5 separate regions of the Homo sapiens genome follow, and regions 1, 2, 3 and 5 are each linked to region 4. The links come from fine-mapping of genetic effects on plasma protein levels. A gene starts in region 4. Each other region holds a variant in brackets. All regions are shown on one strand. Distances are from middle to middle.

Evidence for each region. PIP is the chance, under the fine-mapping model, that this variant and not a neighbour inherited with it causes the effect. The UK Biobank Pharma Proteomics Project read protein levels with antibody pairs (Olink). The fine-mapping took linkage between variants from a reference panel, not from the people measured, so its PIPs are less certain.
Region 1: its variant is fine-mapped to the plasma level of the ADAMTSL4 protein (UK Biobank, PIP above 0.99).
Region 2: its variant is fine-mapped to the plasma level of the ADAMTSL4 protein (UK Biobank, PIP above 0.99).
Region 3: its variant is fine-mapped to the plasma level of the ADAMTSL4 protein (UK Biobank, PIP above 0.99).
Region 5: its variant is fine-mapped to the plasma level of the ADAMTSL4 protein (UK Biobank, PIP above 0.99).

What each region holds. Positions count from the first base shown.
Region 1 is chr1:150,781,010-150,786,281 of GRCh38, forward strand. It overlaps the pseudogene LOC100132571. Among named protein-coding and RNA genes, the nearest start is that of CTSS, 18 kb to the left of the region's middle. RefSeq lists enhancers at 1-722, 723-1,579. The variant G/T (reference allele first, on the strand shown) is at 2,384.
Region 2 is chr1:150,633,199-150,638,470 of GRCh38, forward strand. LOC112268239 (a long non-coding RNA gene) reads left to right here. Exons shown (of 2, transcript XR_007066603.1): 2 at 1,633-2,528. Among named protein-coding and RNA genes, the nearest start is that of ENSA, 6.2 kb to the left of the region's middle. RefSeq lists enhancers at 1,191-1,816, 1,817-2,442, 2,443-3,068, 3,069-3,693, 4,838-5,272. The variant G/A (reference allele first, on the strand shown) is at 2,113.
Region 3 is chr1:150,333,259-150,338,499 of GRCh38, forward strand. It overlaps PRPF3 (pre-mRNA processing factor 3), which reads left to right. Exons shown (of 16, transcript NM_004698.4): 7 at 1,677-1,983; 8 at 4,902-5,068. Among named protein-coding and RNA genes, the nearest start is that of PRPF3, 14 kb to the left of the region's middle. The variant C/A (reference allele first, on the strand shown) is at 3,025.
Region 4 is chr1:150,545,258-150,550,499 of GRCh38, forward strand. It overlaps ADAMTSL4 (ADAMTS like 4), which reads left to right and starts at 4,151. Exons shown (of 19, transcript NM_019032.6): 1 at 4,151-4,242; 2 at 4,565-4,638. It overlaps LOC124904417, which reads left to right and starts at 5,033. Exons shown (of 1, transcript XM_047438226.1): 1 at 5,033-5,242. The coding sequence starts at 5,033. It overlaps ADAMTSL4-AS2 (ADAMTSL4 antisense RNA 2), which reads right to left. Exons shown (of 6, transcript NR_187269.1): 6 at 3,307-3,493. RefSeq lists a cis regulatory region at 144-863 and silencers at 3,336-3,630, 3,562-3,711, 3,882-4,021.
Region 5 is chr1:151,408,918-151,412,196 of GRCh38, forward strand. POGZ (pogo transposable element derived with ZNF domain) reads right to left here. Exons shown (of 19, transcript NM_015100.4): 12 at 2,708-2,854. Among named protein-coding and RNA genes, the nearest start is that of PSMB4, 11 kb to the left of the region's middle. The variant T/C (reference allele first, on the strand shown) is at 452.

The DNA.
Region 1 (5,272 bases), 240 kb after region 4:
CGATTGCAGGCACGCGCCGCCACGCCTGACTGGTTTTGGTGGAGACGGGGTTTCGCTGTGTTGGCCGGGCCAGTCTCCAGCCCCTAACCGCAAGTGATCCGCCAGCCTCGGCCTCCCGAGGTGCCGGGATTGCAGACGGAGTCTCGTTCACTCAGTGCTCAATGGTGCCCAGGCTGAAGTGCAGTGGTGTGATCTCGGCTCGCTACAACCTCCACCTCCCAGCCGCCTGCCTTGGCCTCCCAAAGTGCCGAGATTGCAGCCTCTGCCCGGCCGCCACCCTGTCTGGGAAGTGAGGAGTGTCTCTGCCTGGCCGCCCATCGTCTGGGATGTGAGGAGCCCCTCTGCCTGGCTGCCCAGTCTGGAAAGTGAGGAGCGTCTCCGCCCGGCCGCCATCCCATCTAGGAAGTGAGGAGCGCCTCTTCCCGGCCGCCATCCCATCTAGGAAGTGAGGAGCGCCTCTTCCCGGCCGCCATCCCATCTAGGAAGTGAGGAGCGCCTCTTCCCGGCCGCCATCCCATCTAGGAAGTGAGGAGCGCCTCTTCCCGGCCGCCATCACATCTAGGAAGTGAGGAGCGTCTCTGCCCGGCCGCCCATCGTCTGAGATGTGGGGAGCGCCTCTGCCCCGCCGCCCCATCTGGGATGTGAGGAGCGCCTCTGCCCGGCCGAGACCCCCTCTGGGAGGTGAGGAGCGTCTCTGCCCGGCCGCCACGTCTGAGAAGTGAGGAGCCCCTCCGCCCGGCAGCCGCCCCGTCTGAGAAGTGAGGAGCCTCTCCGCCCGGCAGCCACCCCATCTGGGAAGTGAGGAGCGTCTCCGCCCGGCAGCCACCCCGTCCGGGAGGGAGGTGGGAGGTCAGCCCCCTGCCCGGCCAGCCGCCCCGTCCGGGAGGGAGGTGGGGGGGTCAGCCCCCCGCCCGGCCAGCCGCCCCGTCCGGGAGGTGAGGGGCGCCTCTGCCCGGCCGCCCCTACTGGGAAGTGAGGAGCCCCTCTGCCCGGCCACCACCCTGTCTGGGAGGTGTGCCCAACCGCTCATTGAGAACAGGCCAGGATGACAATGGCGGCTTTGTGGAATAGAAAGGTGGGAAAGGTGGGGAAAAGATTGAGAAATCGGATGGTTGCCGTGTCTGTGTAGAAAGAAGTAGACATGGGAGACTTTTCATTTTGTTCTGTACTAAGAAAAATTCTTCTGCCTTGGGATCCTGTTGATCTGTGACCTTACCCCCAACCCTGTGCTCTCTGAAACATGTGCTGTGTCCACTCAGGGTTAAATGGATTAAGGGCGGTGCAAGATGTGCTTTGTTAAACAGATGCTTGAAGGCAGCATGCTCGTTAAGAGTCATCACCACTCCCTAATCTCAAGTACCCAGGGACACAAACACTGCGGAAGGCCGCAGGGTCCTCTGCCTAGGAAAACCAGAGACCTTTGTTCACTTGTTTATCTGCTGACCTTCCCTCCACTATTGTCCCATGACCCTGCCAAATCCCCCTCTGTGAGAAACACCCAAGAATTATCAATAAAAAAATAAATTAAAAAAAAAAAAAAGGAAAACATGCAAATGAATTGTAGAAACTTTATCATTACAGTTGCACATATTGGCCAGGTGCAGTGGCACATGCCTGTAATCCCAGAACTTTGGGAGGCGGAGGCATGTGGATTGCCTGAGGTCAGGAGTTCGAGACCAGCCTGGCAACATGGTGAAACCCCATTCCTACTAAAAATACAAAATAATTAGCCAGGCGTGGTGGCTTATGCCTGTAATCCCAGCTATTCGGCAGGCCGAGGCAGGGGAATTGCTTGAACCTGGGAGGTGGAGGCTGCAGTGAGCTGAGGTTGCTCCGTTGCACTCCAGCCTTGGTGACAGAGCGAGACTGCATTTAAAAAAAAAGAATTGCATATATTTATGAAACTTAAAGATGAATGTTTTATCAAATTTTCCTTGATTTGTAGATTTAGCACTGTCTTTTATTAGAGGCTTACTAAGATATACAAGAAAAATAACCACACGTTGTGAAAAAGTGACCGGAATCATACACTGAATGCGTAGCCTCATGTACCCTGTCCGTCATCTTATGCCTCTTCTCCACTTGCCTCTTCCTCTTTACCTTCCTCGAAGGAAAGAATTGGTTTCACATTTGTAAAAGTCATTTTAATAGTTAATCATCTCAGAGAGTAACCTGCACTTTAATTGTTGAAACTTAACCAAAATAAGATACAGAAAGTATCTGTATCTGAGAAACAGCTAGGGCTTGTCATTTTTTATATTTAGTATTAAGACAAGAATGCTGGTTTCTCTTTAATCCATTTAAAACAGAGGGAAGCTATAAAAATAAAGATTTTTCTTTGAGGCTGAATTGTCAACTTAGGAAGATTTGTTGTTAAAAATTT[G/T]TTTTTGCACAAAGTAACTCACTTCATCTTATCTGGAAAGATAAGTTGGTCAAGTGTATGTTTAAAATACAAAATTTAGAGGAAAAATAGAAATAGGGTGAAAAAGTACTTGGTAAACAGTAGTGACGAACTGTGAATATTTTCACTCCAGATTTTGTTATCCCTGGCACAGAGTAGATCTTTTGGGAAATATATACGGAAGTGGATTAAGTTTGACTAACTTTATGTAAGCCACATCTAGAAGAGAACAGTTACAAAGAGTTTGGTCTCTAGATTTATTTGTACCCAGCAGATCAACTTTTGCAAAATTCCTTCGCAGTGCAGTAGTATTAGAATTGTGAATGAAATAGGAGTGTTTCGCATATATGCTTATTGACAATCTTCTCAGTATTTTATCTTACTTGTTCTCTCAGAATTTTCTGTCAACTCAACTACTTGATTTGCAGTCATCCTTTGTTATTATCCTTTAACAAGTTTTATCTTATTTTATTTATTTTTTGAGACAGGGTCTTCCTCTGTCATCCAGGCTGGAGTGTAGTGGCACAATCTCGGCTCACTGCAACCTCTGCCTCCCAAGATCAAGCAATTCTCCCACCTCAGCTTCCCAAGTAGCTGGGACTAAAGGCACGTGCCATCACACCTGGTTAATTTTTTTATTTTCTGTAGCGACGGGGTTTCATCATGTGGCCGAGGCTGGTCTCAAACTCCTAGACTCAAGCGATCTGCCCACCATGGCCTCCCAAAGTGCTGGGATTACAGGCATGAGCCACCACGCCCAGCCTGGCCTCAAATTTTAAAAATTTATAGGTTCCATTTGGTAAAGAAATCAGTATCAGAAGTAATGCTAAAATCTTATAATAGGAAAAGAGATCCACTAATATAGCCTATGGTTATTAGATTTGGGCTACTTTTAATCATGGAATAATCTTATGTATTGGTGTAAGAGTTGATGAATGACTTTACCTGTATGAATTAGAATATTCAAACTGCAAACATTTTGCATCCCTTTTGTGACCTAATTTACAGACATTTAAATTGTGCTGCAATTCTGCTTTGCCATTTAATAAAAAGCTGTTTCAGAAAAAAAAATCCAGTTTTGTATTTTATACTTACAGCACATCTCAATTTGAACTTTTCAGTGTCACATCTCAAGTGCTCAATAGCTTCTTGCAGTTAATGGCTACTGCATTCGACCACACAGGTCTAAGCCCTCATCGCTTTTCCAAAAGCAGAGTTCTGATCAAAAGATTTCCTGTTTTGACCAGGTGCAGTGGCTCGCGCCTGTAATCCCAGCACTTTGGGAGGCTGAGGCGGGAGGATTGCTTGAGCCCAGGAGTTCATGACCAGCCTGGGTAACATGGCAAGGTCCCATCTCTACAAAAAATACAAAATTTAGCTGGGTGTGGTGGCATGCGCCTGTGGTCCCAGCTACTCTGGAGGCTGAGGTAGGAGGATTGTTTGAGCCCAGGAAGTCAAAGCTGCAGTGAGTCGTGATCATGTCACTGCACTCCAGCCTGGGTGATAGAATGAGACTCCATCTCAAAAGATATAGATAGAGATAGATAGATAGAGATATAGATAAATATAGATATAGATATGGAATAATATTTTTAAAATATATTATTATATAATTATAGATCTATTTCCTGTTTCAGCACTGTGGCTCACACCTTTAATCCCAGCATTTTGGGAAGCCAAGGGAGGGAGGATCCCTTGAAGCCAGGAGTTCTCAAGACCAGCCTGGGCAACATAGTGAGACCCTGTCTCTGCAAAAAATAAAAGCCAGACACAGTGTACACCCCTGTAGTCCCAGCTACTTGAGAAGCTGAGGCAGGAGGATCCCTTGAGCGCAGGAGGTTGCCACTGCACTCCAGCCTGGGTGACAGACTAAGACCTTCCTTCTAAAAAAATAAAAACAAACAAAAATATTTTCTGTGTCAAAACTCTTCAATACTTCCATATTGCCTACTAATTTGAACCAAAGTCCTTATTCCAGTATTTCAGATGCTGTACAAAACAAAAGCATTGCTCTATCTTTGCAGTTTCATCTTTGCTATCCTCACACAAGAACCTTATACTCTAAGCAACTAGTTTTCCTCATATTTCCAGATCATCTATGCTTGTCACCCTCTGCACTGTTGACTTGCTTAATGATCCTAATAGTCCTAGCTAACATTAATTGGATGCCAATTATATGCCAATGAGTGTGCTAGACTCTTTGTGCATTATTATTTAATCTTCACAACTCTATGAGGTAGATATTATTATCCTCATTTTACAGAGGAGAAGTTAAACTTCTGAGAGGCTAACTTGTTCAAGAGGACAAAACTGTCCATTGACCTAGAAGTGAACCAACCTTGTTTTTAAAGTAGTGCTTTCCCAAAATTATCGTGTTGCCTCTCTCTTTCTGGAATTTCCTTTTCTCATTTCTGCTGCTTGAAATTCTGCTCCTCCTTAATGGCCCATCTCTGAAAATAGCTCTTACAAAAAGCCTTTCTCGGCCAGGTGCAGTGGCTCACGCCTGTAATCCGAGCACTTTGGGAGGCCGAGGCGGGTGGATCACCTGAGGTCAGGAGTTCAAGACCAGCCTGACCAACACGGCGAAACCCTGTCTCTACTAAAAATACAAAATTAGCCGGGTGTGGTGGCGCATGCCTGTAGTCCCACCTACTCAGGAGGCTGAGGTGGGAGAATTGCTTGAACCCGGGAGTCGGAGGTTGCAGTGAGCCGAGATCGCACATTGCACTCCAGCCTGGGCAACAAGAGTGAAACTCCGTCTCAAAAAAAAAAAAAAGCCTTTCTTTATCCCCAACTGGATGTCACTTTTTGAGCTTCTACCAAGCTTTGAGGCTTTGAGGCTCCTTGTGGCAGACACATAGACTGAGCGCA
Region 2 (5,272 bases), 88 kb after region 4:
GCTAGATTAAGTTGCATCTGAGGCGTGGTACATTCCTTACTGTCTCCCCCTTCTTTTTATTTAACTAATTGAGTTTTGAGTGTTCTATTAGTTCTTTCAACTATGGCCTGTCCTTGGGAATTATAAGGAATTCCTGTTGTATGTGAAATTTTCCACTGACTTAAGAATTTTTGGAAAGCTTTACTACAGTATCCTGCCCCATTGTCAGTTTTAATTTTTTCTGGAACTCTCATTACAGCAAAACAAGGTAATAAATGTTTTTTAACATGGGAAGTACTTTCTCCTGTCTGGCAGGTTGCCCATATGAAATGTGAATAAGTATCAACTGTTACATGAACATATAATAATCTTCCAAATGAAGGTACATGCGTGACATCCATTTGCCGTAATGCATTAGGACACAGACCCCTGGGATTAACTCCTGCCTCTTGAGTGGGCAGGTGTAGGACTTGACACTGGGTGCAATGTCGTACAATATCTTTTGCCTGTTTCCATGTGACATCAAATTTGTTTTTTAATCCTGCTGCATTTACATGAGTCAAAGCATGAAATTTTTGTGCTTTTATGAATGCAGATGATACCAGTAAGTCAGCTGGTTCATTTGCTTTAGTCAAAGGCCCTGGTAAATTAGTGTGTGCTCGAATATGAGTAATATAAAATGGGAAATTTCTTTTTCTTACAGTTTGTTGTAATAAATTGAATAGCTGGTTTAACTGATCATCCATGCTATATTTAATTAGAGCTGTCTTTACATCCCTTGTAGCCTGTACTACATATGCAGAATCTGATACAATATTGATAGGTTGATCAAAATCTTGTAACACTGTAATGACTGCAACCAACTCTGCCCTTCGAGCCAATTGATATTGAGTTTTGATTACTTGCTCTTTTGGCCCTGTGTAAGCCGCTTTTCCATTGCTGGAACCATCAGTAAACACTGTCAGAGCATTTTCTAAAGGTTCACGTCTGGTAATTTTAGGTAGAATCCAAGTAGTTAATTTTAAAAACTGGAAGATTTTTGTTTTTGGGTAATGATGATCAATAATTCCCACAAAATTAGCAAGACCAATCTGCCATGCACCAGAATTGATAAAGGCTTGTCTAACTTGTTCCTTGGTTCAAGGGACAACTATTTTGTCTGGGTCATTTACACACAATTTTATTATTTGTAATCTTGCCTGACCAATTAATGTAGCTATTTGATCCAAGTACAATGTAAAAGTCTTAATTGTACTGTGAGGAAGGAATGACCACTCCACAAGATCAGTATTTTGAACAGTGATGCCTGTTGGAGAATGTGCAGTAGCAAAAACCAAAAGTTGGAGTGGGGCTAAGGGATCTATTCTATTTATTTGCACTGACTGAATTTTTTGTTCCACTAATTTAATTTCTTTTATTGCCTCTGGGGTTAATATTCTCTTACTATTTAAGTCTGAGTCTCCTCTTAAGATAGAGAACCAATTTTCGAAGCATCAAAAGCCCATTTAAATTTGGTACCAGAAACTGAGGCAATCGCAGGAGTGACTGATGGCCTCGCAAATCTTAACCCTGTCACTTGGGTTAAGACCATCGGAAGTACTACTATTATAAATTTCGTATTAATCCTTGTGTGCCTGTTTTATCTGTTGTTAGTCTGCAGGTGTACCCAGCAGCTCCGAAGAGACAGCGACCATCGAGAACAAGCCATGATGATGATGGTGGTTTGTCGAAAAGGAAATGGGGAAATGTGGGGAAAAGAGAGATCAGACTGTTACTGTGTCTGTGTAGAAAGAAGTAGACATAAGAGACTCCATTTTGTTCTGTACTAAGAAAAATTATTCTGCCTTGAGATGCTGTTAATCTGTAACCCTACCCCCAACCCTGTGCTCCCTGAAACACGTGCTGTGTCAACTCAGGGTTAAATGGATTAAGGGCTGTGCAGGATGTGCTTTGTTAAACAAATGCTTGAAGGCAGCATGCTTGTTAAGAGTCATCATCACTCCCTAATCTCAAGTACCCAGAGACAATACGCTGCGGAAGGCCGCAGGGACCTCTGCCTAGGAAAGCCAGGTATTGTCCAAGGTTTCTCCCCATGTGATAGTCTGAAATATGCTGGCCGGGAAAGACCTGACC[G/A]TCCCCCAGCCCAACACCCGTAAAGGGTCTGTGCTGAGGAGGATTAGTAAAAGAGGAAGGAAGGCCTCTTTGCAGTTGAGATAAGAGGAAGGCATCTGTCTCCTGCTCGTCCCTGGGCAATGGGATGTCTCGGTGTAAAACCCGATTGTATGTTCCATCTACTGAGATGGGGAAAACCGCCTTAGGGCTGGATGTGGGACATGCTGGCAGCAATACTGCTCTTTAAGGCATTGAGATGTTTATGTGTATGCACATCAAAAGCACAGCACTTTTTTCTTTACCTTGTTTATGATGCGGAGACGTTTGTTCACATGTTTTCCTGCTGACCTTCTCTCCACTATTACCCTATTGTCCTGCCACATCCCCCTCTCCGAGAAACGCCCAATAATGATCAATAAATACTGAGGGAACTCAGAGACTGGTGCCGGTGCGGGTCCACTGTATGCTGAGCGCCACTTCCCTAAGCCCACTTTTCTTTCTCTATACTTTGTCTCTGTGTCTCCTTCTTTTCTTAAGTCTCTCATTCCACCTGACAAGAAATGCCCACAAGTGTGGAGGGGCAGGCCACCCCTTCACTCAGCCTCCTGAGTAGCTGGGATTGCAGGTGCGCGCCACCATGTCTGGCTAATTTTTGTGTTTTTAGTAGAGGCGGGGTTTCACCCTGTTGGCCAGGTTGGTCTTGAACTCCTGACCTCAGGTGATCCACCCATCTGGGCCTCCCAAAGTTCTGAGATTACAGGCATGAGTCACCGTGCCCAGCCCATTTATCCTTGATATAGCTAAATTACTGAGCATTAGGAAGGGTGGAACTTTCAGCCTGTAAAATATGAGTGAGGTTTCACAAAAACTAGCACAATGTCTGGGGCCCAGATTATTCTATTTGTGACTGGGCGGGAAGAGGTATATATATAGTAATTTTTGTATTTTTAGTAGAGACGGGGTTTCACCATGTTGGCCAGGCTGGTCTTGAACTCCTGACGTTAAGTGATCCATCTGCCTCCCAAAGTGCTGGGATTACAGGTGTGAGCCACCACTTTGGGCCATAGATCGGGTGATTGGGGGAAGACCTGAGGTATCTGAGCAGAAATCTGGTTGGGGAGTGAGCCAACAGTTATCTGGAGGGAAACTGGTTCAGGCAGAGGGAAGAGCAAATCCAAAGCTCCTAAAGCAAAAGCATATTTTTGGTGTATTTGAGAAACAGCAAGAAGGTCAATGTAGCTAAGAGCCGGAATAAGAGAAGAGATGCAGGCAGGGATGAGATTGTTTTTGGCTTCTTAGGTCATGGTAAGAACTTGGATTTTATTTTTTGTGTAATGGGCACCCATCAGATGGTGTTGAGGAGGGGACTGACACAAAATCATTTAGGTATTAAACTGATCCTTCCGCTGCTCCATGGGGACCCAGAGTGGAAGTAGTAGCAGGAAACCAATTAGGCTTTTACAATAGTTCAGGTAAGAGATGACAGTGACTTGGACTAGGGTGTAGTAGCTATGGAGATGGTTGAAAATGGCTAGATGTGGGATCTATTTTAAAGGTACCACCAACAGCATTTGCAGACTCAAGGATGATTTCAAAGTTTTGGGTCTGAGCAACTAGGTGAATGATAACATTGTTTACTGAGACGGGGAGGCCTTAAGTAGAAGGTTTAGGAGGGAAAATATAGATTTTGCTATGGACACATTATATTCTATACAGACATAATTTAAAATAGTTACCAGGTCCATCAATTGATGGATAAACTATGGTATATCCATACATTGGAATATTATTTGTTAATAAAAATAAATGGTCAGGCGCAGTACCTTAAGCCTGTAATCCCAGCACTTCAGGAGGCTGAGGCGGGTGGAGTGCAGTGGCACGATCTCAGCTCACTGCAACCTCTGCCTCCCAGGTTCAAGCCATTCTCCTGCCTCAGCCTCCGGAGTAGCTGGGATTACAGGCGCCCGCCACCACGTCCGGCTACTTTTTGTATTTTTAGTAGAGATGGGGTATCACCATATGGGCCAGGCTGGTCTTGAACTCCTGACCTTAGGCGATTCACCCGCCTCGGCCTCCCAAAGTGCTGGGATTACAGGCGTGAGCCACTGCACCTGACCACTATTCACTTTAAATGGGTATACTGTATGGTATGTGAATTATAATCGCAATGAATCTATTCTAAAAATATAGTTATTGAAAATATATAATTATAAAAAGCATTATGAAGCTATTCCCCCCCACACCAGAAGCTATTTTAATAAAAGATTTTAACCTACTAGAAATAAAAGGAAAATTAAGTAGTCAAGAGTTCTAATCCTTCTCTGTTAACCACAGGAAACCTGGCTGTTTGGACTGGGTGTCTGTGTCAACAGACCACCACCAACCTGGAACAGTATTTGCTAATAACAAGCAAAGTATTCCTGAGTAATAATAGCTTCTTGATTGTTGGACTCCCATAAAGCAGTCATTATTAAGCTTTTTAACTTTTTTTTTGTTGGGGTGGGGGTGGTGTGCGTAAAGTATTGCATTATGTTTACTTTAGTATATATTGCCACCAGTTTTTCCAAATCTGATCTTTGAGAATCTGGTATAAACTATGGTTCTTCTGTCCCCCAAATGTGCTTAAGCACAAATACATACATGCAATATTATACGTATTTTAGGATGTACATAGATCCCCTGAAACCAACCAATGCAGCTCAGTTTCTATAAAATTAAAGCAAGGTCACAGGAATTAACAGTGGCTTTTATTTATCCAGACTTCTGCTCAGCACAATCATATGCTCATAAATATATGACTTGACAGTTCCAAAGACCTGCAGTATGGCTGGTTGGGGTATAAATTGGTACAACATACTTTGGAAAGCTGGTGGCAATATATACTAAAGCTGTACATAATCCAAAACCCATGACCTTGCAATCCCTCTCCTAGGTATATATACCCGATTGAAATGCATTCTTTGCGATGCGGGTAAAGAGGGGATGGTTAATGGGTACACAAAATATAGAAAGAAAAGTAAGATCTAGTATTTGCTATCACAACAGGGTGACTATAGTAAAAAATAATTGTTCATTAAAAAATAACTAAAAGAGAGGCCAGGTGCGGTGGCTCATGCCTGTAATCCCAACACTTTGGGAGGCCGAGATGGGTGGATTGCCTAAGGTCAGGAGTTCGAGACCA
Region 3 (5,241 bases), 210 kb before region 4:
CTTTGAATGTTACTGATCTGGCTGGGCGCAGTGCCTCAGGCCTGTAATCGTAGCACTTTGGGAGGCTGAGGTAGGTGGATCACCTGAGGTCAGGAGTCAGGAGTTCGAGACCAGCCTGGCCAATATGGTGAAAACCCATCTCTACTAAAAATACAAAAATTAGCCAGGCGTGGTGGTGCATGCCTGTAATCCCAGCTACTCGGGAGGCTGAGGCAGGAGAATCGCTTGAACACAGGAGGCAGAGGTTGCAGTGAGCTGAGATCGTGCCACTGCGTGGGTGACAGAGGGAGACTCCGGCTCAAAGAAAACAACAAACAAAATATTACTGATCCTCTTTTTCCACAGAACCTAGATCATTTCTCACAGTTTCATATTTCTTAGGTGTGATTGATTAACCAGTTGAATTTTTTCTCGTCTTCCCTGTTGGAGGGTTTATTATCTTCTTATGATTTATATAACTGAGATTAAGGTTATTCATCTAATGTTGGAGCTAGGAGTATAGCCAGGTTTCCTTCCTGGTTTCAAACTCAGATTTATCCATTAAACCACATTGTGTGAGACTAGATCTGAGGTTCCTCTGCAACTGGTCAAAGATGTTACATTTTTTTTAGCATCTACAGTTGGTCTGGCATCCCATGAGTGACATAAGAATTCAGGGATAAGGAAAGATAGGATTATAAATTCATATAATTTATAAACTCATTTCATTTGGTTGTCCTGTATACTGAAATATCCACTTTGATATTTTTAATCAAGATACTATTGGCAGGGCGCGGTGGCTCACACCTGTAATCCCAGCACTTTGGGAGGCCGAGACTGGCAGATTGCTTGAGCTCAGGAGTTCAAGACCAGCCTAGGCAACATGGCAAAACCCCATCTCTCTAAAATATACAAAAATTAGCCAGGCATGGTAGAGCATGCGTGTAGTTCCAGCTACTTAGGAGGCTGAGGTGGGAGAATTTCTTTGGGCCTGGGAGGTTGAGGTTGCAATGAGCTGTGATTGTGCCACTGTACTTTAGCCTGGGCAGCAGAGTGAGACCATGTCTCAAAAAAAAAGATGGTATTGCTCACTGATGAGATTGTTCCCTAGAATTATTTTATTGTCCTTTTTGTTGTTGTTGTTGTTGAGAGGGAGTCTCACTCTGTCACCCAGGCTGGAGTGCAGTGATCTCGGCTCCCTGCAACCTCTGCCTCCCAGGTTCAGTAGCTGGGACTACAAGTGCCCGTCTAAATTTTGTATTTTTTGTAGAGATGGGGTTTCACTGTGTTGCCAAGGCTGGTCTTGAACTCCTGGGCTCAAGCCATCCACCCGCCTCAGCCTCCCAAAGTGCTGGGATTACAGTGTGAGCCACCACACCCGTCCATCCAAATAACTCTTATAGAGAAGGCACTGCAGCCTCAACTTCCTGGGCTCAAGTGATCCTCCTCAACCTCCTGAGTAGGTGGGACCACAGGTATATGCCACCGCACCCAGCTAATTTTAAATTTTTTGTTGAGATGCAGTCTCCTTGTGTTGGCCAGACTGGTCTTTAACTCCTGGGCTCAAGTGATCCCTCTGCCTTGGCCTCCCAAAATGCTGTGGTTCCAGGCTTGAGCCACCACGCCTGGCTTTATTTTGTTTTTTGCTTGCCTTAATGTTCCATACAGGATTTATTTCTTTGCGGGCTATTTTTCAGGAAGGTGGAGTTAAAAGACCAAACGAAACCTACACCACTGATCCTGGATGAGCAAGGGCGCACTGTAGATGCAACAGGCAAGGAGATTGAGCTGACACACCGCATGCCTACTCTGAAAGCCAATATTCGTGCTGTGAAGAGGGAACAATTCAAGCAACAACTAAAGGAAAAGCCATCAGAAGACATGGAATCCAATACCTTTTTTGACCCCCGAGTCTCCATTGCCCCTTCCCAGCGCCAGAGACGCACTTTTAAATTCCATGACAAGGGCAAATTTGAGAAGATTGCTCAGCGATTACGGACAAAGGTATCTGGCTTAGAGTATAACACAGAATTTGGAAAAAGTTAAGAAGCTGACAAGAAAACATTGTTAAATCTCTGTGTTCTAGGAAATTAGATAAATAGGTCATTTAAAGCAGCAGTCCTCAACCTTTTTGGCACCAGGGACTTGTTTCATGGAAGATAATTTTTCCCCTGGAGTAAGGATGGTTTCGTGATGGTTCAAGCACATAGCATTTATTGTGTACTTTATTATTATTATTTTTTTCGAGATGGAGTGTCGCTCTTGTTGCCCAGGCTGGAGTGCAATGGGGCGATCTCGGCTTGCTGCAACCTTTGCCTCCCAGGTTCAAGTGATTCTCCTGCCTCAGCCTCCCGAGTAGCTGGGATCACAGGCATGTGCCACCACGCCTGGCTAATTTTGTATTTTTGGTGGAGACGGGGTTTCTCCGTGTTGGTCAGGCTGGTCTCGAACTCCTGACCTCAGGTGATCTGCCCACTTTGTCCTCCCAAAGTGCTGGGATTACAGGCGTGAGCCACCGCCCCCGCCTTTTTTTTTTTTGGGCGGGGAGGGGGATGGAGTCTTGCACTGTTACCTGGGCTGGAGTGCAGTGGTACAGTCTCAGCTCACTGCAACCTCTGCCTCCTGGGTTCAAGCAATTCTCCTGCCTCAGCCTCCTGAGTAGCTGGGACTGCAGGCATGCGCCGCCATGCCTGACGAATTTTTTGTATTTTTAGTAGAGACAGGGTTTCACTATGTTGGCCCGGCTGGTCTTAAACTCCTGACCTTGTGATCTGCCTGCCTTGACCTCCCAAAGTGCTGGGATTATAGGCGTGAGCCACTGTGCTGGCCTATTTCTATTATTATTTTATTGTAATATATGATGAAATAATTATATAACTCACCATAATATAAAATCACTGGGAGCCTTGAGCTTGTTTTCCTGCTGAAATGGTCCCATTTGGGTGTGATGGGAGACAGTGACAGATCATCAGGCATTAGATTCTCATAAGGAATGTGCAACATAGCCCCCTCACATGTACAGTTCACAATAGGGTTCGCGCTCCT[C/A]TGAGAATCTCATGCCACCGATGATCTGACAGGAGGTGGAGCTCAGGCCATAATGCAGGTAATAGGGAGCAATCGTAAGTACAGATGAGACTGTTGGCTTGCCTGCTGCTCACCTCCTGTTGTGCAGCCCAGTTCCTAAAAGACTGTTGGGTTGGGGACCCCTGATTTAAAGCAATGAATACTTTGAAAAATGTGCTGGACAAGATGGCTCAAGCCTGTAATCCCAGCGCTTTGGGAGGCCGAGGTGGGTGGATCACGAGGTCAGGAGTTCAAGACCAGCCTGCCCAACATGGTGAAACCCCGTCTCTACTAAAAGTACAAAAATTAACCGAGCGTGGTGGTGGGTGCCTGTAATCCTAGCTACTTGGGAGGCTGAGTCAGGAGAATCACTTGAAACTGGAAGGCAGAGGTTGCAGTGAGCTGAGATCGCACCACTGCACTCCAGCATGGGCAAAAGAGCGAAACTCCGTCTCAAAAAATATATATATATATTTATTAATATAATACATAATTTTTTTAGCAGATTTTACTTCCTAATTCGTTTCTACATAAGTGGAAATATTATGAAATTGAGTTTGAAAATTCTCCACATACAACTAAGTGGAGGGAAACAATTTGAAACATTCTGAGTGACTAAGGAAGGCTTGCCTGTAGTTAAAATTTAATGAGACAGTACACCTGGAGAGTTGAATTGATTGTATATTGAATGACCTTTGCCGCCTTTTTATCCTCTCAAAGTGAGGTTTTCATAAAATTCCTTTTTTTTTTTTTTTTGAGACGGAGTCTCGCTCTGTCACCCAGGCTGCAGTGCAGTGGCACGATCTCAGCTCACTGAAAGCTCCGCCTTCCAGGTTCATGCCATTCTCCTGCCTCAGCCTGCTGAGTAGCTGGGACTATAGGCGCCCGCCACCACGCCCGGCTAATTTTTTTGTATTTTTAGTAGAGACGGGGTTTCACCGTGTTAGCCAGGATGGTCTCGATCTCCTGACCTCATGATCCTCCCGCCTCGGCCTCTCAAAGTGCTGGGATTACAGGCGTGAGCCACCACACCCGGCCATAAAATTCTATTTCTGCGTATTTACTGCAGGCATATACTGTGGAGTGCAGGGAGGGGTTGAAGGTGAGATCTATGTATATGAACTAAATAAAGGATAAAATAAAGCAGAACAACTCCTTTCTAAGCTTTCAGAAATTATGAACTTGTTGCGTTAGGTGTAAAGAGTTCAACGGGGAAGTGTTTTAAAATTTGGGATTCTTGGCCGAGGTGGGCGAATCACTAGGTCAGGAGATCGAGACCATCCTGGCTAACATGGTGAAACCACTTCTCTACTAAAAATACAAAAAAATGAGCCGGGCGTGGTGATGGGCGCCTGTAGTCCCAGCTACTCGGGAGGCTGAGTCAGGAGAATGGCGTGAACCCGGGAGGTGGAGCTTACACTGCACTGCACTGCAGCCTGGGTGACAGAGTGAGACTCCGTCTACAAAAAAAAAAAAAAATATTTGGGATTCTGGCCGGGCACAGTGGCTCATGCCTGTAATCCCATCACTTTGGGAGGCCGAGGCGGGCAGATCACCTGAGGTCGGGAGTTTGAGACCAGGCTGAGCAACGTGGAGAAACCCCATCTCTACTAAAAATACAAAATTAGCTGAGGGTGGTGGCACATGCCTGTAATCCCAGCTACTGAGGAGGCTTAGGCAGGAGAATCGCTTAAACCTGGAAGGTAGAGGTTGCTGTTAGCCAAGACCATGCCATTGCACTCCAGCCTGGGCAAGAAGAACGAAACTCCGTCTCAAAAAAAAAAAAAAATTGAGATTCTACACATTCTGTTTTCTATGACTCCAATTTATCTTTCTGTCTTGGATTATCTTGTTTTTAGGCTCAACTGGAGAAGCTACAGGCAGAGATTTCACAAGCAGCTCGAAAAACAGGCATCCATACTTCGACTAGGCTTGCCCTCATTGCTCCTAAGAAGGAGCTAAAGGAAGGAGATATTCCTGAAATTGAGTGGTGGGACTCTTACATAATCCCCAATGGCTTTGATCTGTGAGTTTGTTTTAGTACCTTTTTAAAAAAACAGTTTTTAATCAGCTGAGTTTAAGACTCAAGTTAATACCTTTTAGTAAAGCTATGGTTTTAGTGGGAAGGATGGTACTCATTCATTAATTAAAATTTTTAAATCCAAGAGAGATAAGTAACTGTACACAAGGTCCTGTTAT
Region 4 (5,242 bases):
TTTTTGAGACAGGGTCTTGCTATGTTGCCCAGGCTGGTGTCAAATTCCTGGGCTTAAGCAATCTACCCACCTCAGCCTCCCAAAGTGCTGGGATTACAGGTGTGAGACACCGCACCCAGCCTAAAAACTTTTTATCCTGGAGACAGTGTCCACAAACTTAATCTGGTATTTCACAAGTTGCTGAGGCATAGGAAACTCTTTTCTTTCTACAATATTTTCAGACCACCAAGCCATGAGAGGTGACAGCAGTAGCAAATCTCATGAGCTCTTCGGTGAGCAGCCATTTCTTAGTGGAAAGGACTGTATCTGACCTTCAGTTCTCAGCAGTTACAAATGTCAAAGGCAGACCTTTTCTCTCCTCCCAGGCTCCCCTCCCACACTCCTGTCCTGCAGCTTCCCTCCCTGTAGATAAGTGAATGCTGATGAGGTGTGACTGGGCCAGGACTGAAGGGTCCCTGGCCCAAAATATCTTCCTCTGCCCGGAAGGCTGGGCTTCTCATCATCTATATCATACTCTGAGGTCTGGGGAAAGGGGCTTCCCCTTCAAAGCTAGCACTATAAATATGTCTCCAGGTTGTCACCAGGAGTCCCTAGATAAACCACCCCTCTGGGAGGGGCATTAACCTTTTATCTTCTCAACCCATGTAGGAACTCAGGACTCAGATGGAGGATGAGGAGAGGCACCTCCCAGAGGCGCAGGTCAATCTGACCCGCTTCATGTTTCGTGGTGTACTTCGTGTTTTCAAGTTGTTGTTGTTGTTTCAGTGACTTATCAAAAAAACAAAACTCTAATATAAAATAGGAAAAAGTATAGATGATACAAAGTAGCATAAATAGTCCTTTATTCTGAAAGAACTTAGTGATTTACCGAGAAAAAATATGCATGTTAAATTTCAAATAATGATACAATTCTTTTTCTCCTTTCTTTTTTCTTCTTCTTTTTTTTTTTTTAGATATGGGGTCTTGCCATGTTGCCCAGGCTGGACTTGAACTCTTGGCCTCAAGTGATCCTCCCACTTCAGCCTCCCGAATCGCCAGGACTACAGGTGCCTGCAATTGTACCCAGCTCGGGACACAATTCTTACATTTTCTTTTCTTTTCTTTATTTTTTTGAGGCAGAGTCTCGCTCTGTCACCTAAGCTGGAGTGCAGTGGCATGATCTCAGCTCAATGCAACCTCCGCCTGCCAGGTTCAAGCAATTCTCCCTGTCTCAGCCTCCTGAGTAGCTGGGATTACAAACGCCCACCACCACACCCGGCTAATTTTTGTATTTTTAGTAGAGATGGGGTTTCGCCATGTTGGCTAGGCTGGTCTTGAACTCCTGACCTCAGATGATCCGCCCGCCTTGGCCTCCGAAGGTGCTGGGATTGCAGGCATGAGCCACCGCGCCCGGCCCAATTCCTACATTTTGAAAGCATTTTACGTTTTCATATCCATCATCTTCTTAGAGATAACATCTCCTTCAGCTGAGCCCAGTATTAACCTTCGCATGACCCCATTACCTGCCGTGTCTGTGCCTGATCAGACCCAACTCCTTGAGGCCAGAGACTTCTTGCTGCTTCTTCAACACCAAGTGCAAAAGGCGCCCAAAAAATGACAGGTGGGGAACCAAAGACCTCTGATATTTTGTGAGGATGCAGGACAATGTTGTTAGAGCTTCTATTTTTGTGTTTTAGTTTTTCAAGAGAAATTTTAAAATATCCAGGTTTTAAAATACGTATTGACAAGTTATTTAAAAAAAAAAAATGTGCCTTTAGGTTGGGCCCAGTGGCTCACACATGTAATCCCGGCATTTTAGGAGCCCAAGGAAGGAGGATTTCTTGAGCCCAGGAGTTTGAAACTAGCCTGTCTTAAAAACAAAAAACAAACAAACAAAAACCTTTAAAACACTGAGTAGACCCAACAAAATACAACGCGTCAGTAAATAGAAAGTAAAAATATAGGCCGGGAGCAGTGGCTCATGTCTGTAATCCCAGCACTTTGGGAGGCTGAGGCGGACGGATCATGAGGTCAGGAGTTCGAGACCAGCCTGGCCAACATGGTGAAACCCCATCTCTACTAAAGATACAAAAAATTAGCCAGGCGTGGTGGCTCGTGCCTGCAATCCCACCTACTCAGGAGGCTGAGGCAGGAGAATGGCTTGAACCCAGGAGGCAGAGGTTGCAGTGAGCTGAGATGGCGCCATTGCACTCCAGCCTGGGTGACAGGACAAGACTCCTTCTCAAAAAAAAAAAAGTAAAATATAAAAATAGCAGTGACCATTTATTGTCTACTCTATGCCAGCCATTTTACATATTTTATTTATTTATGTGTTTATTTTTTGAGACGAGGTCTCTCTCTGTCGCAGGGGCTGGAGTGCAGTGGCACGATCATAGTTCACTGCAGCCTCAAACTCCTGGGCTCAAGCAATCCTCCCCGCTCAGCCTCCTGAGTAGCTAGGACTACAGGCTTTCACCACCATGCCCAGCTTACATATATTATTTATAATAAATAATAGCCAGGCGCGGTGGCTCACGCCTATAATCCCAGAACTTTGGGAGGCCGAGGCAGGAGGATCACTTGAGGTCGGGAGTTGGAGGCTAGCCTGACTAACATGGAGAAATCCCGTCTCTACTAAAAAATATAAAATAAGCCAGGCATGGTGGCGCATGCCTCTAATCCCAGCTACTTGGGAGGCTGAGGCAGGAGAATCACTTGAACCTGGGAGGCGGAGGTTGCAGTGAGCCGAGATCGCGCCACTGCACTCCAGCCTGGGCAACAAGAGTGAAACTCCATCTCAAAAAAAAAAAGAAAAAAAAAAGATAAAACTAATAGATGGATTGCTCTTGTGGTTAAAAAAATTCACAAAAATAACATTACATAGCTGGGTGCGGTGGCTCACGCCTGTAATCCCAGCACTTTGGGAGGCCGAGGCGGACGGATCACGAGGTCAGGAGATCGAGACCATTCTGGCTAACACGATGAAACCCCGTCTCTACTAAAAATACAAAAAATTAGCCGGGCGTGGTGGCAGACGCCTGTAGTCCCAGCTACTCAGGAGGCTAGGGCAGGAGAATGGCGTGAACCTGGGAGGCGGAGCTTGCAGTGAGCCAAGATAGCACCACTGCACTCCAGCCTGGACGACAGAGTGAGACTCCGTCTCAAAAAAAATAAATAAATAATAATATAATAATAATAAACATAACGCAGAGTAAAAAGCAAAAGCCTTTTTCAGTCCTCCCCCAACCCTGCATCCCTCCCCAGATGTCACCAATACTACTGAGTTTGGGGTGCATTCTTCCATGTATAAATGCATAAAGAGACATATCCAAGCCCATCATATATATTAGATTAGTCCCATTTTGCAGATGAGCAAACTGCACCACACAGGGGTGGAAGTATTCGTCGAAGACCACATAGCTGGCAAGAGCTGGAGCTGAGGTTCAAATCCAGATCAGTCTGACTCAGAAGTCAGCACGCTGTCCTTTCGCTGAGTCCCGAGTGTAAAACCTTACTGAGGAAAAAAACCGAAGCTCATAGAAGTCCCAGCAATCTGAACCACCACTGCCCAACACGGGAGAGGCAGGAGTGACTGAGTTTGCAGGGGAGGCTGCGTGGAGGGGAGAGCCTGGACCCACGCGGATCGGGGGCCGCGGGTACCTCCGTCCAGGGCGCTTCCCTCCCGGACCAGCGGCTCTCCCAGGCCGCCTCGCTCCAGGCGCCCCTGGAGGCTGCCCCGCCTGTGCCGCGCCGCGCCGCGCCGTGTTCGCACCGCTCACCCGAGCGGCTCGGAGGCCCGGGTTGCTTAAGTCCCTAGTCTCAGCCGGGCACGAGGACAGCGCCCGGGAGCGACTGCAGCCTCTGACCCCGGCTGGGCCAGCCCGGGCTGCTTAAGTCCCTAGTCTCGGCCGGGCACGAGGACAGCGCCCGGGAGCGACTGCAGCCTCCGACCCCGGCTGGGCCAGCCCGGGCTTCAGCTCACGCAGCCGTCGGGGGGCGCCCGGCGCGCAGCCCGGGGTGGGTGGTCCTGGCGAGTGGGGCTGCGAGGCAGACCGGCCCCACCCCGGGGCCGCCGAGGGGCGCGGGCTGGGGCGCGTGGCGGGCGGGGCTGGGCGGGGGCGGGCGCGAGGGCGGAGTTGCGGCCGAGGCGGCCGTGACCGGAGCGCGGCTCAGGGGCCCCAGTGGCCGCCGCGGAGCGAGGTTGCCTGGAGAGAGCGCCTGGGCGCAGAAGGGTTAACGGGCCACCGGGGGCTCGCAGAGCAGGTAGAGACCTCCCCGGGACCCCGGCCCCGGCCGCCCCTCTCCCGGGTCCCGTTAGACCGCCCGCCCCGCGCGCCCGCGTCGTCCCCTCTCCCTGCGCTGTGCGGTCGCGACCCCGCCACGACCCCGGACCCAGCTCCGGTGGCCTCGGACAATCTTCCAGCCCCTGGGGTCGAATTCCTGGGGAGGGAGTCTGATCCCGTGGAACTCTGGCCCCATCACCCGGGCGGGGAGTGAACCAAAATTCCTCCTAAGTCACATAGTAAAGTTGGAAAACAGACCCATGACCTCCCCGCGCGGCCGGTGCCTCCTGCCCTCTCTCTAGGAGGGTGCTCTCGGACGGTGTGTCCCCCACTGCACTCCTGAACTTGGAGGACAGGGTCGCCGCGAGGGACGCAGGTGGGTGCCCTTGATCCAGCTCAGCCCGATGGCAGAAGAGGTTGACAAAAAAGAAAGACACCTGTTGGGGTGGCCTGCCAGACCCAGGAGTGGAGGGCTCTGAGGGCCCGGGAATTCGGACTCAGGACAGGGATTCTCCATGGCTAGGCCCAGAAACACAGGGTCCAACCACTCTCCAGCAGGGAGACCTGGGGGTGAAGGGGTGAGCCCTGCGCAGGTCTCTGTTCCTTGGTCTTCACTGGGCAGTGTGGAGAGGTGTGGCCAGGAGGAGCCCGCGTTTGTCCAGACCAGGGTCTACTCTGGCACCAGAGTGACCACCTCTGACCTCTCCTTTCCTCGTCCTGGGCCGGGAACGACACCAAATGAGGGACATGGAAAGGGGTGAGAAGCATAAATGTGCGTGTGTTTCTGCAGAGGAGGGGGCATGGGCCCCTGCCGGGCTGCGCAGGGGAGGGTGGGGTGGGACTTTTCCAGAGAGGGAGCCAGGCCTGGCCCGGGCCCCGGGAGCTCACGTCACCCCCACCCCTCACTTCTCCAGGGAACTGCCAAAGCCAAACCCAGCTCGGGATGGGATTATGTGTACTGGGTAGACCCGTGGAGAGGG
Region 5 (3,279 bases), 860 kb after region 4:
CCATATCATTCTTCCCACCTTTCTGTTGATAATTTAAGAGAGTAAGAAAGAAATATGCAACATGACCACAAAACCTACCATTGAGAATCATCACCTCCCATGATATCAAAGAAAGATGGATTCTAGTCCAGGATGACTAAGTTCTCAAATCATCCTTTCCTGACTTGTTTTAACAATTTGAATGAGTGATGTAACCTTTATTTGTATTATATCTTTACACTGCTGACAACTGGACATTCTTCTGGACATTCTTCATTCTTCTTTTTTTAAAAAAGGACAATGTACATAGTAAACTAAAGTCATACTTTTTTTTCTATACTCTTCCAACTTTGCTTTCAACTCCAACACTCAGTCCCCTTCCATACAAACAACTTATTACCAGTTTCCTGAGTATGCTTTCGTGGGCAGTCTACACATATAACTGTATCACAAATACATTCATATCCAATCA[T/C]TACCTGCCTCGCCCCCTTTTTTTGAGACAGGGTCTCTCTCTGTAGCCCAGGCTGGAGTGCAGTGGCATGTTCATAGCTCACTGCACGTCCCAAGTAGCTGGGACTACAGGCACGTGCCACCACGCCCGGCTACTTTTTGTATTTTTTTGTAGAGACGGGGTGTCACCATGTTGCCCAGGCTGGTCTTCAACTCCTGGGTTCAAGTGATCTACCTGCCTTGGCCTCCCAAAGTGTTGGGATTACAGGCGTGCATCACTGTGCCTGGCCCTTACTTTTTTCCCTTTCCTTTTTGTAGAGATGTTGTCTCACCATGTTGCCCAGGCTGGACTCCACCTCCTGGGCTCAAGTGATCCTCCCACCTCAGCCCTCTTCTTTTTCTCCTTTTAACACAAATGATAGCACTTGTCTATACCTTGCTGTTTTCTCACTTAACACATCAGTATATACAGATATGTCTCCTGGTGAGACCACTTTGAGGATTCAGTCTGCCTAGTATTGAAGTCCTTCAAAAATAGAACCCATGTCTATGATTTTCTTTAGTAGGATAACAAAGCTCTGTAAGCTTAGGCTAAGAGACAATTTCCATGCCCCTATTTGGAAATACAGTTGTGGTAGACAATCAGCAGTCACTACTGTGCAAAGGAGACTATGAGTGTAATAGGGTACATATGTTTGTGTGCATATGTATGTGACTATTAAGCACACATGCACTCATCTTATTCTCCATTTTGAATCCTCTCTTATATACTATATACCTTTCACTCTCCTCTAGTGGCTCTCTTCTTGTAGTATTTTAAAACGAAGTCATAGCTTTTCATCTTATAAGGAAAATAAAAGCAATAAAAAACTCTTCTTTGCCACTTCTTCCTCTGGATTTACCTACCCTGGGTCCTCCCTTTTTATAAATAAACTTCTTTAAATACATCGTCTTCATTTCCTTACCTCTCATTCATTTGTTCTGCTGAAATGTGACTTCCACCCTACCAACCAACAAAATGGCTCTCATCAATGTTGCTAAATTAAAGGCCTGTTTCTAAGTCTCTATGTTGCTTGACACCTTCCTGTAACATATGACATTTTGATCACACCCTTTTCTTTAAAACACTTTCTTCTCCCCAGTTTCCTTAAGGTTAAGACTCTTCTGGTTTTCCTCCTAGTACTATGGTGGTTGCTTTATAGATAAGGGACTTCAAATATCCTAAGCCTTCTCTTATTCTCAACAGGGTTGGGGGGCCCATGGTATTTAAGTTTAAAATCTATAGGATTTATATAACGCTGATTCCTAAATCTTTTCTACAACCCAGAGTTCTCTCACAGGCTTGAGATCTATTATCCAACAGCTACACTTGACATCCACAGATACTGCTAACTTACAATATCCAAGCTCATGATCTCCCCCCTCACAAATATACTTTCTCTATTGTTTCTATTTCAGCAAATAGTTCCCTCATTCACCCAACTGCCCAAGACAGAATCTTAGGCACTATTCTTAACTACTGCATTGCTACCTTCACCTAATCCATCTCTACATCATAAATATCACAAATCTTCTGAATATCTCTCAACTCTACCCTCTTTTTATTTCAAAAGCCAATAGCCACTATCATCTCTCACCTAAACTACTGAAAAAGGCCTTCTAGCTAGTTTCCCTAACTGTAGTCTCAATCTCCTTTAATCCATTCTCTGCAGTGCAGGCAGTATAAAGCCTTAACTAAAGCTGAACACATCACTCCAGGGCTTAAAACCCCTTTAGTGGCTTCCCAGTGAATTCTTTTCATGGCTTAAAAGATCCTCCATGATCTGTCCCTGCCTAACTTCCAACCCCTCTGTCTCTTACACCCTACACTGAATCTCTCTCAATTTCTTGAACCTCCACAATTTTGCTTTGTGCCTTGGGCACACTGTTCTTCGTCTTATTTCATCTGGCTCATTCTTATTCATCCCTCAGGTATTGAACAACACTTCTTTCTGGAAGCCTTACTAGGCACCCAGAATAGCTATGTGATTTTCTATATCCTATAATTTCCCCAACACAGTACTCTTCATGTTTTATTGTATTGTTTGCCTTGTTTACTACTAAATCTCTAGCATCTAGACTAGTACATGGCACATTAAGTGAATTCAATAAATTTCTGCAAACATATGCATATTATAATCTCTGCCCAAATTATTTGCCTAGCTCAGCCCTGGCCCCAGCATCCATGTTTAAAAAAAAAAAAAACAAGAGAATATGGGAATTGCTTGGTGCCTAGTACCTGGTGCCTCATGTAATGCTGTTGGAATGCATTGCCATTTTTGAAGACCTTCAGGCAATAAGGGCAGAGCAGATGCCGGGTATCCTCATGGATCATCCGAAAATGGACATCTACCTCAGAGTAGAGTGAGGAGCGATATTGACACACCTGAGTCACATAGGAGGGAAAATAAGGCTAAGAATGAAGTGAACAACTGAGAGGCCTTAAAAAAAAAGGTAGCAACAAAAATTTTTAAATTAAAAAAAAAAAGTTTTCTCAAATGCATAGAAATCAAATTATTTTCCTGACTTTGTAATGCTGGGCTATGTTTGTGATAGGTTTAGCTATTACTTTAAAAATAGGAAGGGACAGAAAGTCTAAGAATAATCCATGTTCTCTAACTAAGAAAAATAAAGCCTTTTCTGTCAATTTCCAAAGGGCACGTTCAGGAGACAGACACTCCCTTAGAATATGCACATGTTCCCGGCTAGTCTACTTGTGGACATGTTCTTTTATGTTTTTCTCCTGCATGGAAACCCTGAAGATAAACTGTGTTTACTATTTCTTCTGTACCTACTCAGAGTTCCTAAACT